Linked DNA regions of Homo sapiens: region 2 is linked to region 1. A link means that fine-mapping ties the variant in region 1 to the expression of a gene that starts in the linked region. Tissue or cell type: regulatory T cells. Region 1 holds a variant in brackets; the other region holds the start of a gene. All regions are shown on one strand. Distances are from middle to middle.

Evidence for each region. PIP is the estimated chance that this variant, and not a neighbour inherited with it, causes the effect.
Region 2: SYDE2 starts here. The variant in region 1 is fine-mapped to the expression of SYDE2 in regulatory T cells (Schmiedel 2018, PIP 0.92).

What each region holds. Positions count from the first base shown.
Region 1 is chr1:84,273,309-84,278,460 of GRCh38, forward strand. LOC124904808 (small nucleolar RNA SNORA2/SNORA34 family) reads left to right here and starts at 4,013; the gene lies at 4,013-4,149. The variant TG/T (reference allele first, on the strand shown) is at 2,193.
Region 2 is chr1:85,198,302-85,203,453 of GRCh38, forward strand. It overlaps SYDE2 (synapse defective Rho GTPase homolog 2), which reads right to left and starts at 2,715. Exons shown (of 7, transcript NM_032184.2): 1 at 1,951-2,715. The coding sequence starts at 2,695. It overlaps LOC124904207 (a long non-coding RNA gene), which reads right to left and starts at 1,941. Exons shown (of 2, transcript XR_007066199.1): 1 at 1,850-1,941; 2 at 1-1,738. RefSeq lists an enhancer at 1,830-2,441 and a silencer at 2,454-3,603.

The DNA of each region.
Region 1 (5,152 bases):
GTTTATTTATCCATTCACCTACCGAAGGACATCTCAGTTGCTTCCAAGTGTTAGCAATTTTGAATAAAGCTGCCATAAACATCCATATGCGTGTTTATGTGTAGACATAATACCAAAAGAGCATGATTGCTGGATTATATAGTAAGAGAATGTTTATTTTGTAAGAAACTACAAAACTATCTTCCAAAGTGGCTGTATAATTTGCATTCCCACCAGCAATGAATGAGAGTTGCTGTTGCTCCACATCCTTACCACCAATTGGTGTTGTCAGTGTTCCAGATTTGGACCAGTCTAATATGTATGTAGTGGTACTTCATTGTTGCTTTAATTTGCATTGCCCTGATGACATATGATATGGAACATCTCTTCATATGCTTATTTGCCATGTGCATATCTTCTTTAGTAAGGTGTCTGTTAAGATCTTTGGCCCATTTTTTTAATTGGGTTGTTTGTTTTCTTATTGCTGAGTTTTAAGAGGTTTTCTTTTGTTTTTTGTTTTTTGTTTTTTTTGTATTTTGGAAAACAGTCCATTATCAGAAGTGTCTTTTGCAAATATTTTCTCCCAGTCTTTGGATTATCTTCTCATTATCTTGACATTGTCTTTTGTAAAGCAGAAGTTTTTTAATTTTAGTGAAGTCTGGTTTATCAATTATTTCTTTCATGGATTATGTCTTTGGTGTTGTATCTAAAGAGTCATCACTATACCCATACTCATCTAGATTTTCTCCTGTCTCATTACATTCTAGGAGTGTTACAGTTTTACATTTTACATTTAGGTCTGCGATCCATTTTGAGTTAATTTCTGTGAAGAAAGTAAGGGTCGTGTCTTACTCATTTTTTGTGTGTATGTGATGTCCAGTTGTTCTGGGATCATTTGTTGAAGACTCTTTGTTCCATTGTATTGCCTTTGCTCCTTTGACATACACTATCTGCAGGGTTTATCTCTGAGCTCTCTATTCTGTTCCACTGATCTATTTGTCTATTCTTTTACCAATACCACACTGTCTAGATGACTATAGCTTTATATTAACTATTGAAGTCAGATAGTGTCAGTCCTCCAACTTTATTCTTCTTCAATGTTGTGTTGGCACTTCTGGGTCTTTTGTCTCTGCAGATGAACTTTAGAATCAACCTGTTAATCTCCACAAAATGGCTCGCTGGGATTTTAATTTTGATTACACTGAATCTATAGATCAAGTTGGCAACAGCTGACATCTTGACAACATTGAATCTTCCCATCCACGAACACGTAGTATTTTTCCATTTGTTTAGTTCCTCTTTGATATCTTTCATTAAAGTTTTTCAGTGTTTCTCACATGGATCTTGTATTTATTTTGGTAGATTTATACATATTTTATTTTGGGGAAATACTTTTTTTTATTTCAAATTTCATTTGTTCATTGCTGGTTGTCATGGATTGAATATATTATGAAGAGAAATTTAATCCCCATTGCAACAGTGCTGAGAGGTGGGATCTATAAGAGGTGATTAGGACATGAAGGGCTCTGTTCTAATGAATGGATTCATGCTTCTTGTGGGTTAGGGTTCCTAATAAAACAATGAATTTGGCTCCCCTCCCCTCCCTTTCCCTCCGCCTCCCTCCTTCCCTCCCACCTCCTCTTCCTTCCCTCCCCCCTGCCCTCTCCTTCCTTTTCCTTCTATATACATGCTCTCTTGCCCTTCTGCCTTCAACCGTGGGATGACACAACATGAAGGACCTCACCAGATGTAAGCCCCTCAACCTTGGACTTCTCAGCCTCCAGAACTGTAAGAAATAAATTTCTGTTCTTTATAAATTACCTAGTCTTGGGTATTCTGTTGTAGAAGCATAAAACAGACTAAGACACTGGTATATTGGAGAACAATTGACTTTTGTATATTAACCTAGTATTCCTCAACCTTCCTATAATTACTTATTAGCTCCAGGAGACTTTTCTGCCAATTTTTTTCAGGTTTTCTTCATAGACAATCATGTCATCTGCAAACAAAGACAGTTTTGTTATTTCCCTCCCAATCTGTAGCTTTTATTTCTTTTTTCTTTCTTGCTGTATTATCTAGAATTTTTCATCTGCTCTTCAGAAGCAGTGGAGAGAGGAAACATTTTGCCTTGCTCCTGGTTTTATGGGAAAGCTTCAAGTTTCTCATCATTAAGTATGATGTTAACTGTAGGGTGTTTGGGTTTTTTTTGTTTT[TG/T]TTTTTGTTTTTTTCAGATATTCTTTATCAAGTTGAGGAAATTTCCCTCTATTCCTAGTTTACTTAGAATTGGGTATTTCCCTTCTTCCAGGTCAGTTAGGCGTTGGTAAAACCCCTGAAGTTTAGGCTCTGGCTAAGCAGTTCCTCCTAAGAGCAGACCACGTTCAGAAGAACAGAGTGTTCTGGTGTATTTTTAAATAGTTCTTTTCCCCTTCCCCTGGCAGAAGCATGACAGGATTTTTCTCCAATATTCACTGTGGGGGTGTGGTAGAGCTTCTAAAGGTAAAACACAAAAATGTGGGGGTCTCCTAATGACTGAGTCCCCCTGGAGTTTTTGACTTGCCCACACTCAGCCTCCAGCAATTCATCAATTACAGTTAAGATTTTCCTACATGGGCACCGGTTGCTGCAGAGGTTACTACTCATGGTTTCCTGCTCACAGAGTTGTGATTCTCTGTATTCCCCTGTTGGTCTCTCCAATTTGGGGGACAGCAGTTTGCCCTATAATCTAACCTCTCTTAGAGATCTAAAAAGAGTTGTTGCAGAGTCTTACCCTCTCACCCAGGCTGGAGTGCAGTGGCACTATCATGGCTCACTGTAACTTCCAACTCCTGGGCTCAAGTGATCCTTCCACTTCAGCCTCCGAAGTTGCTGTGACTACAGGTGTGCGCCACCATACCAGGCTAATTTTTGTATTTTTTTGTAGAGATGGGGTTTCACCATGTTTCCCAGGCTTGTCTTGAACTCCTGGGCTCAAGTGATTGGAACCGCCTCAACCTCCCCAAGTGCTGGGATTACAGATGAGAGTCGCTGTGCCTGGTTTATTCAGCTTTTTACTTGTTGTTAGGGCTGAGTGACAACTTCCAAGCTTCTTACATGCCAGACTGGAACTGAAAGTTGGTGTGTTACTTTTTTAAAGTATAAATTCTGGGCCTTACCCCAGACCTACTGATTCAGTCTCAAGGGGTAGAGCCCAGGATCTTTATCTTAAGAAATCCTCACCAGTGGGCACCCATGTATTATGGCTTCTGAAGCATAATTTTATAAGAATGAAACATAACTCTGGAAACTCCTGTGAGAAGAGTAGCCTTGGCCCCAGAAACAAGGTAGAAGGGTTCCTAAGCTGTTCATTATTAAGAGAGACACCCAATCAGGGATTTATAATTTGGTAGCTCTTCATCTACTCTCAAAGGTGCACCCAATAAAATGAAGGCCCAGCACCAATATCCCAAGACCAGGCACAGGCAAGAGGAGATGGACACCAAGGTGCTGCCCTAGGTTCAAGGATGTTGTTGTTTTCCTCACCCAGGAGGAGGACCTGCATCAGAGCAGTGGGAAACTTTTCTTTCTAGACTTCCAGTTTCCACACCTGGCACGATTCTGGCTGGACCACAAGAAAGAGCTAAGGAGAGAGAGCCCAAGAATACCTGCTTATGTGACAGCTGCAGTTTAGAGGAGTGAGGTAATTAGCTTAGGATCATCCAACCAGTAGGTAGGTAGATGTGAGATGATGCAAAAGAAGATATCAGCAGGAGTGACCCTCTGTCCCTATTGCATGAAATAAGTATGCTTTGCTGTAGAAAAGAAGGAAACCAAACAAATCATTAGTACCAATCTGGAAATGGAAAGAAAGGGCATCCCCATGACACCACTGGCTCCCTGGACTGATACCTTCCAAGGTCAACCCCACATCTCTTCCTCCTACTCTTGTGAACCAATAAATTATCTTTTTTGCTTAAAGTAGTATATGAGTTGGGTTGCTATACCTTGAAGCCAGAATGTTCTAGTAAAAGTATTCCGTATGTATTAAAAAGAATGGTTGGTCCTGATTCAAGGCCAGCAGTTTGCTGAAGCTGTTGGTTTCAAGCAGGAGACTAAATAATTGTCTTTTCATGGTCTGTTGGCCATCTTATAACTTTGGAAATGTAATGTCCAATTCATTAGAAATAAACATCTGGAAAAAAAAATGGACAAATATACTGATATAGAAAATGATCACAATAATTATTAAATGAAAAAGGTCAAATTACGCAATAGTGTTTTTGGTAGTATTCTATTTGTGTATACAGTGTGTTTTGTGTGATTTTTATGTTGCCTTATTTTATTTCATCTTATTTTGTTTTTAGTAAATGACTAGAGAACAACTGGAAGAATACTTAACACACTGCTGGCAGGAGATGGGATTGGGAAATCCCCCAATTCTGAACCATTTACTGATGATGAGCATGTATTACTTTCATAATAAAATACTAAATTAAAAAAGGAAAGAGAAGAAAGTTAGTCACTGAATGTACCAGATACTTGCCTGCCCCCAACTTCCTGGTTTCCTTGTTAGGGAGAAAAGATAGTTAGAGATAGCAAACAGAACAGGTTCCATGGTTAAGCCAACCAAAACTATATTGACTGAGTCAGTAATTCAGTGAGATATGGACAGACTTAAGTATGTACAACTGAGAGAGTTTGCATCACAGGGAATTAAATGCCCAAAGTCTAACCAGTCAATAAAAATACAAAAAGGGTTAAAAAAGCAATCATTCATGTTGAATCCTCACAGTCTAGGGGTGAGGAGTGCAGAATCCTACTCAAGGTACTGAATGGAGACTTGGCATCAACTGTCTAGAATTTAGAGGGAGGCTTAGCAGGTGCTCAGAATGTGCAGCATCACCACTTCCAGTTATGTGGGCTGCAGAAAAGCCCCATTAAACAGTCACTTAAAAGGGAGATATTAAAGGAGAGGAGTGCCTGGAGAGGAAGCAAAGAGGGGTTTAGCAAGTCAATGTAAGTTAAGAAGGCTAATCCAGGCCGGGCGCAGTGGTTCACGCCTGTAATCCCAGCACTTTGGGAGACCAAGGCCGGTGGATCACCTGAGGTCTGGAGTTTGAGACCAGCCTGGCCAACATGGTGAAACCCCACCTGTACTAAAAATACAAAAAATTAGCCGGGTGTGGTGGCAGGCGCT
Region 2 (5,152 bases), 920 kb after region 1:
CTATAAAAATTGTATGAGAACCACCTAATGTATCCAGAATGGACTTAGTAAGACCAACTAAACTTCATGAAAAATAATTTTTTTAAAAAGCTCTCCAAATCTATACTAGATATGTAAACACTGCACAAATTATTTTCATCTCTCCTGAAAAATGAATTAGTGGTTTAAAAGGAAGTAACATCTGAGAGTTGTTTAAACCAGAGATTATGGTAGCTTTGGCTTAGATTTCTCATAAAATATCTAAAATATTATCACATAATAATTGTTTCATTTTAATTTCTAAGTTAGCAGTTTCATTTAATTAGTTGCTTAATGCAAAAATCAAATTCATTCTTAAAGGAACTATATTTATTACTTTAAAAATCCTTGAATGTTTACTACTGAGGGCATTAAAAGCCATCACATGGTAAGTGTTTTAGCTCTGTGACAAAAGGGTGAAAAATATTTGACTATTTTTTGTTATGGCTGAAATTCAACTATGGTACCAAGAGTTAAAACTAAGCCAAAGGGGGGGAGGTAAAAATATTGTGGCAATAAAATATAATAAATGATTACAAATTACTCCTGGAAATGCATGTTTAATATGAACTTAGTATAAAGTACACCTCTCAACAAAGAATTTACATTCTATTATCCTTTTGTTCAAGTGAAATGGAATATTTAACCTTGAGAATAAAATTTGACAGGTGTGTATTAGAGCCGTATAGACAGGAAAAAACTTTGCAAGTTGGCACACACTTTGAATGAATCATTTGATTTGTCTTCATTGTTTGATAAGAAGTTTTGTGAACTTTGTTTCTCCCCACTGTTGTGTGTTTATTGGTTAAACAAAGTTAATGTGTATAAATCCAGTCCTGTAGGATTTATAATTACTACCAGAGAAACCGCCAAGTACTGTGAATACCTTTTACATTTCAGGATTTAATGTTTTCCAAATTATTCCTGACTTATAAGTCTTTATGATCACTAAAAATTTTTATATGTAAGAGTATTCAAAAGACCATGTTGTTTTGGCTCACTTTGAAGATATTATACTCCTTTCAGGAAAGATATTTTGATATTTACAACATAATTGACTGGTTTCTAGAATTGATAACCTAAACCTTCAGTGATAGTTAAAAATCATGCACATACAAAATAGGGAGCTTAATCCTATTATAAGGATCAATATACTTTTTAAAAAACTAATTTACTTCTCTTATAAATAGGATTTAAGTTTGCAAATGACTGCTTTAAAAACAAAACTACCTGAGGAACATTTTTCTTTTGATTAAAATGTTAGTGTCCTTGATTTTTCACAATAAAAAGATTACTTTGTTGAGGTTTCTTTGTCGGGGGGAGGCAGGTGGAGAGATGGTGTATGTGAAATACTACCTGACTAAAAAATTCTACTTATGGTAGGGTTTTTTTTGTTTGATTTGTTTGGGTTTTTGGTTGTGTGTATGTATGCATGTGTGTGCGTGCCTGGGAGAGGCAAAAAAAAAAAGTTGTAATGAGTAAAATGACAGTTTATGAAGCCTATAAAATCTACCTTGAATCAAATTCAAATTTACAAACTCCACAAAAGTCTACGGATTTGCCTAGAGCTACAAAGAATAAAAATCAAGACAGTGCCGCCCATCTGTAAACCTACTAAAAGTGTGTTATACTTAACCTTTACTCCTTTAGGTAATACTTAGGGAATAGACACACTGGTTTTTCGAGAAGAAATCACAACCTCAATTCTTCATGCCATTGTCTGATTAAAAAGAAAAAAAAAAGCAAAACGAGTAAATGCATTACATTAAGTAACCCCGAAATTACTTTAAGCTGCCACTTACATGACACTTACTTTCGCCCGGTAACGTACCTGTCGCAAAAACATAACTTTTTCTTGGCTCTTAAGACAGAAGCCCAGTCGGTAAACAGTAAGGCTCGCGGTGCTAGCATTTTCATCGCAAAGTATCCTACCTGTCAGCGTAATTCTTTGGTCTGGAGGCACCGACAGGACACGGTTTTCACGCACTTTCAAAGCGCCCACATTTGGGGAGGCTGCCTGCGTTCCTGTGACTTTGGGAGCCGTCCCACGGGCACGACCCTTCATTCCCAGGGACAGCAGACGCCCTTTGTACATCCACTTCTGCAGCTTCTTGACTGTCACTGCCGGCGGCCTGAGGAAGGAGGGGCCTTCCTGGCGGTCTCCTTTGCCACTGCGTATCACAGAGGACCCCGCTGGATCCCTGAAAGGGCTTCCCGAGGAGCAGCCGTGGTCCTTGCAGCCTGGAGGCTGGAGGCCGGTGGGTGCAGCCGCCCGGGCGCGGTCCCCACTCCAGCCGTCCATCCTGCCTCCACGTGGCGGGGGCTCGTCCCAGTCCCGGTGCGCGCCGCACCTGATCCAGCTGTCGCTCGGCCACCGCTGGAAGGGAGGCGGCTTGGCACCCACCCGGAGGCTCTCGAGGCTTCTGCTGCAGGACGGCCGCATCCGAGGAGTCCGCAGCTGGCCTCCCCGCGGCTCCCTCTGAGGCGACCGGGGCGGGGACACCTGCTGCCGAGGGCGTCCGCCGCCTCCCCGCTCCCCGTCCCGGGGGCAGGCTCGGCGGTACGCGGCGCCGCGGGAAGGCGGCTGGCCCGGAGCCCGGGCTCCCGCGGGGAAGCTGTGATCCGCCAAGCCCCTGCCGCCCCGCCGCGCGCCCGAGTCAGGGGGCAGGTCGTGCATGGCCTGGATCAGCAGATAATAGGCCTCTCGCAACTGGGTCCGCAGCCTGCCTGTCTCCAGGCGGCCGCCCTCCGCCCCCAGGGAGGAGCCCGCCGCTGGGGGAGGCGGGGGACGCCGTTCCGCCTCCGCCCCCTCAGGCTCGGGCGCAGACTGCGAGCCGCCGGGCAGGTTTTCGTAGTAGTCGGCGTCGTAGTCGTCTTCGTCCTTGTCGTCTTCCTCCTCCTCTCCGCTGTCCTCGGAGCCCTCCGGGGAGTGCGGAGGGGCGTGAGCGAGCCCATGGCTCTGGGGGGCGGCCTCCTGCCCGCCGCGCGGCCGAGGCCCGAGCGCCCCCAACTGCTCCGGGTGCCCTCCGGGGACCCGCGCCCCGGGACCCCACGCCTCAGGTGACGGCGAGGGCTGCTGTAGGCTCCGCCCGTGTCCCCCGGCGTGCTCACGTGGGAGGGTGTCTGCGGCACCCCAGGCGTCTCCCGCGGCTGCCGAAGAGGCCGCCACCGCAGCTGCGGCTGCCGCCCGGAGCCCTAGCCCCCCGGTGCCGCGGGGACCCCGCCTTCCCCGGAGCCTGGACAGCGTCCTCCTCAGAGGGTCCGCCATCCCCTCTGCCTTAGCCGCGAGGCTCACCCCCGCCAGGGGGAGAGGTCGGAGCCCCGCTGGGGAGAAAACCGCGCTCGCGGAGGCGGAGGCGGAGGCGGCGGCGGCTCCCCATGACCGGCGCTGGCCCTCGCCGGCTCCTCACATACTTGGCATAACTCTGCCGCGGGAAGGCGTGGGGGAGGGCGGTGGCGCCGCAACGCGCATGCCCCGGAGCCCCGGGCCGCGACGGGGCGCGCGGGCCGGGGGCGGCAGAGGTGGGTTCTCGGGGTGGGCGAGTGGTGCAGGTGGAGGCGGAGGGCGCGGGCCGGTAGGTTGAGTAGTAGGTCGGCTGAAGCTGACCGACGGAAGCAGGGGTGGGCGCACAGAGCGCGAAGGGTGCGGGGAGAGTTGAGGCAGGGGAAAGAAGAACGAGCAGGAACGTGAGTTTGGGCTGGTGGCTGCAAAGTTTTGGTTAGGGAGCCCGAGAAAGGGAAAGTGCCCTCCTGGCTGTCACCCCAGCACCTTCACCGCCACCGCTGCACGAGGTGTGTCTTAGGCACAGCAAGTCCTAGCTTGAGAGAAAACAAAGATTGTTTTGACGGACAAAGTACGAGTGCAGGTGTATCTCGGTGCATGTGTTCTAGAAATGTATCAATCATTTTAATCGCCCAGAGAGCTAGCTAGCTAAAAGAAATTTGCAGCGATTCCTTTTCTATAAGAGTTCTTTTATCAAAAACAAAACAAAACCCACCCACCGATGTCTCTTTTAAGTCTGTTTTTCCTTCTTTATTTCAGTTAATGCATGCTAACAAAATTATTACATCAGCCAAAACTTGTAAAATGGAGCCACAAATATTATGTCCCTCATCACCCTACCTACAAGATTATCATACAGGTTTGCAGCTTTCTAATATAAAAAAGTTAACACTTCATTTTAATTTAAATAGTGAGTTGAGAAGCAATTGAATTGAAGTTGAGACACAGTGTAATCTAGAAATACCGGCTGTCTCCCAAAAACGTTAAATTCCAGGTTCTGGGCAGCAGTTGCAAACTCAAGTACCCCTCGTTGCCAGAGATTAATTGATTCAGTGACTGATAAGAATCAGTCGTGCTATCATCCCTGATTTGAGTTACTTTTTTTAGTGTTTACATAGTAGAAAGGGCCTTTTTCTGAGTTACTCATAAATATGCTGACACCTAGCACAGTGCGTGCACTTAGTAGATACTCAAATACTTAAGAAAATATTTGTTGAATAAATAAATGTTTGCATTACTGAATAAAATGAAATAATTTTGCCCTAATTTACCTTATTTGCAACTGCAGTATATTTTCCTATGTCAGTTGTTTTCTTGTTGTCCAGTGGCTCCAATCTCTGAATGTGCTTTGACTATACTACCTTTATTAGTACCTAGTCTCTGCTTTCTGGAATAATTGTTACCTGCATCTGAGATTTGCAGATAAGAGAGAATATTTGCAGAAATCTTACCCACTCTCTAAAACTCTGCTCTAGGCCAGGCGGGGTGGCTCATGCCTGTAATCTTAGCACTTTGAGAGGCTGAGATGGGCAGATTGCTTGAGCCCAGGAGTTCAAGACCAGCCTGGACAACATGGCACAACCTGGTCTCTACGAGGAACAAAAACAAACAAAAAAAAAAACACAAAAAAAATTGGCTAGATGTGGTGGTGTGCACCTGTAGTCCTAGCTACTCTAGAGGCCGCGGTGGGAGGATCACTTGAGCCTGTGAGGCTGAAGCTGCAATGAACCGAGATCATGACACTTCATTCCAACCTGGATGACTGAGGGAGATTCTGTCTCAAAATAATAAGAATAAAATAATAAAACTCAGCTCAACTGCCTTCTTGTTTATGAAGTCATCTCTGATCTC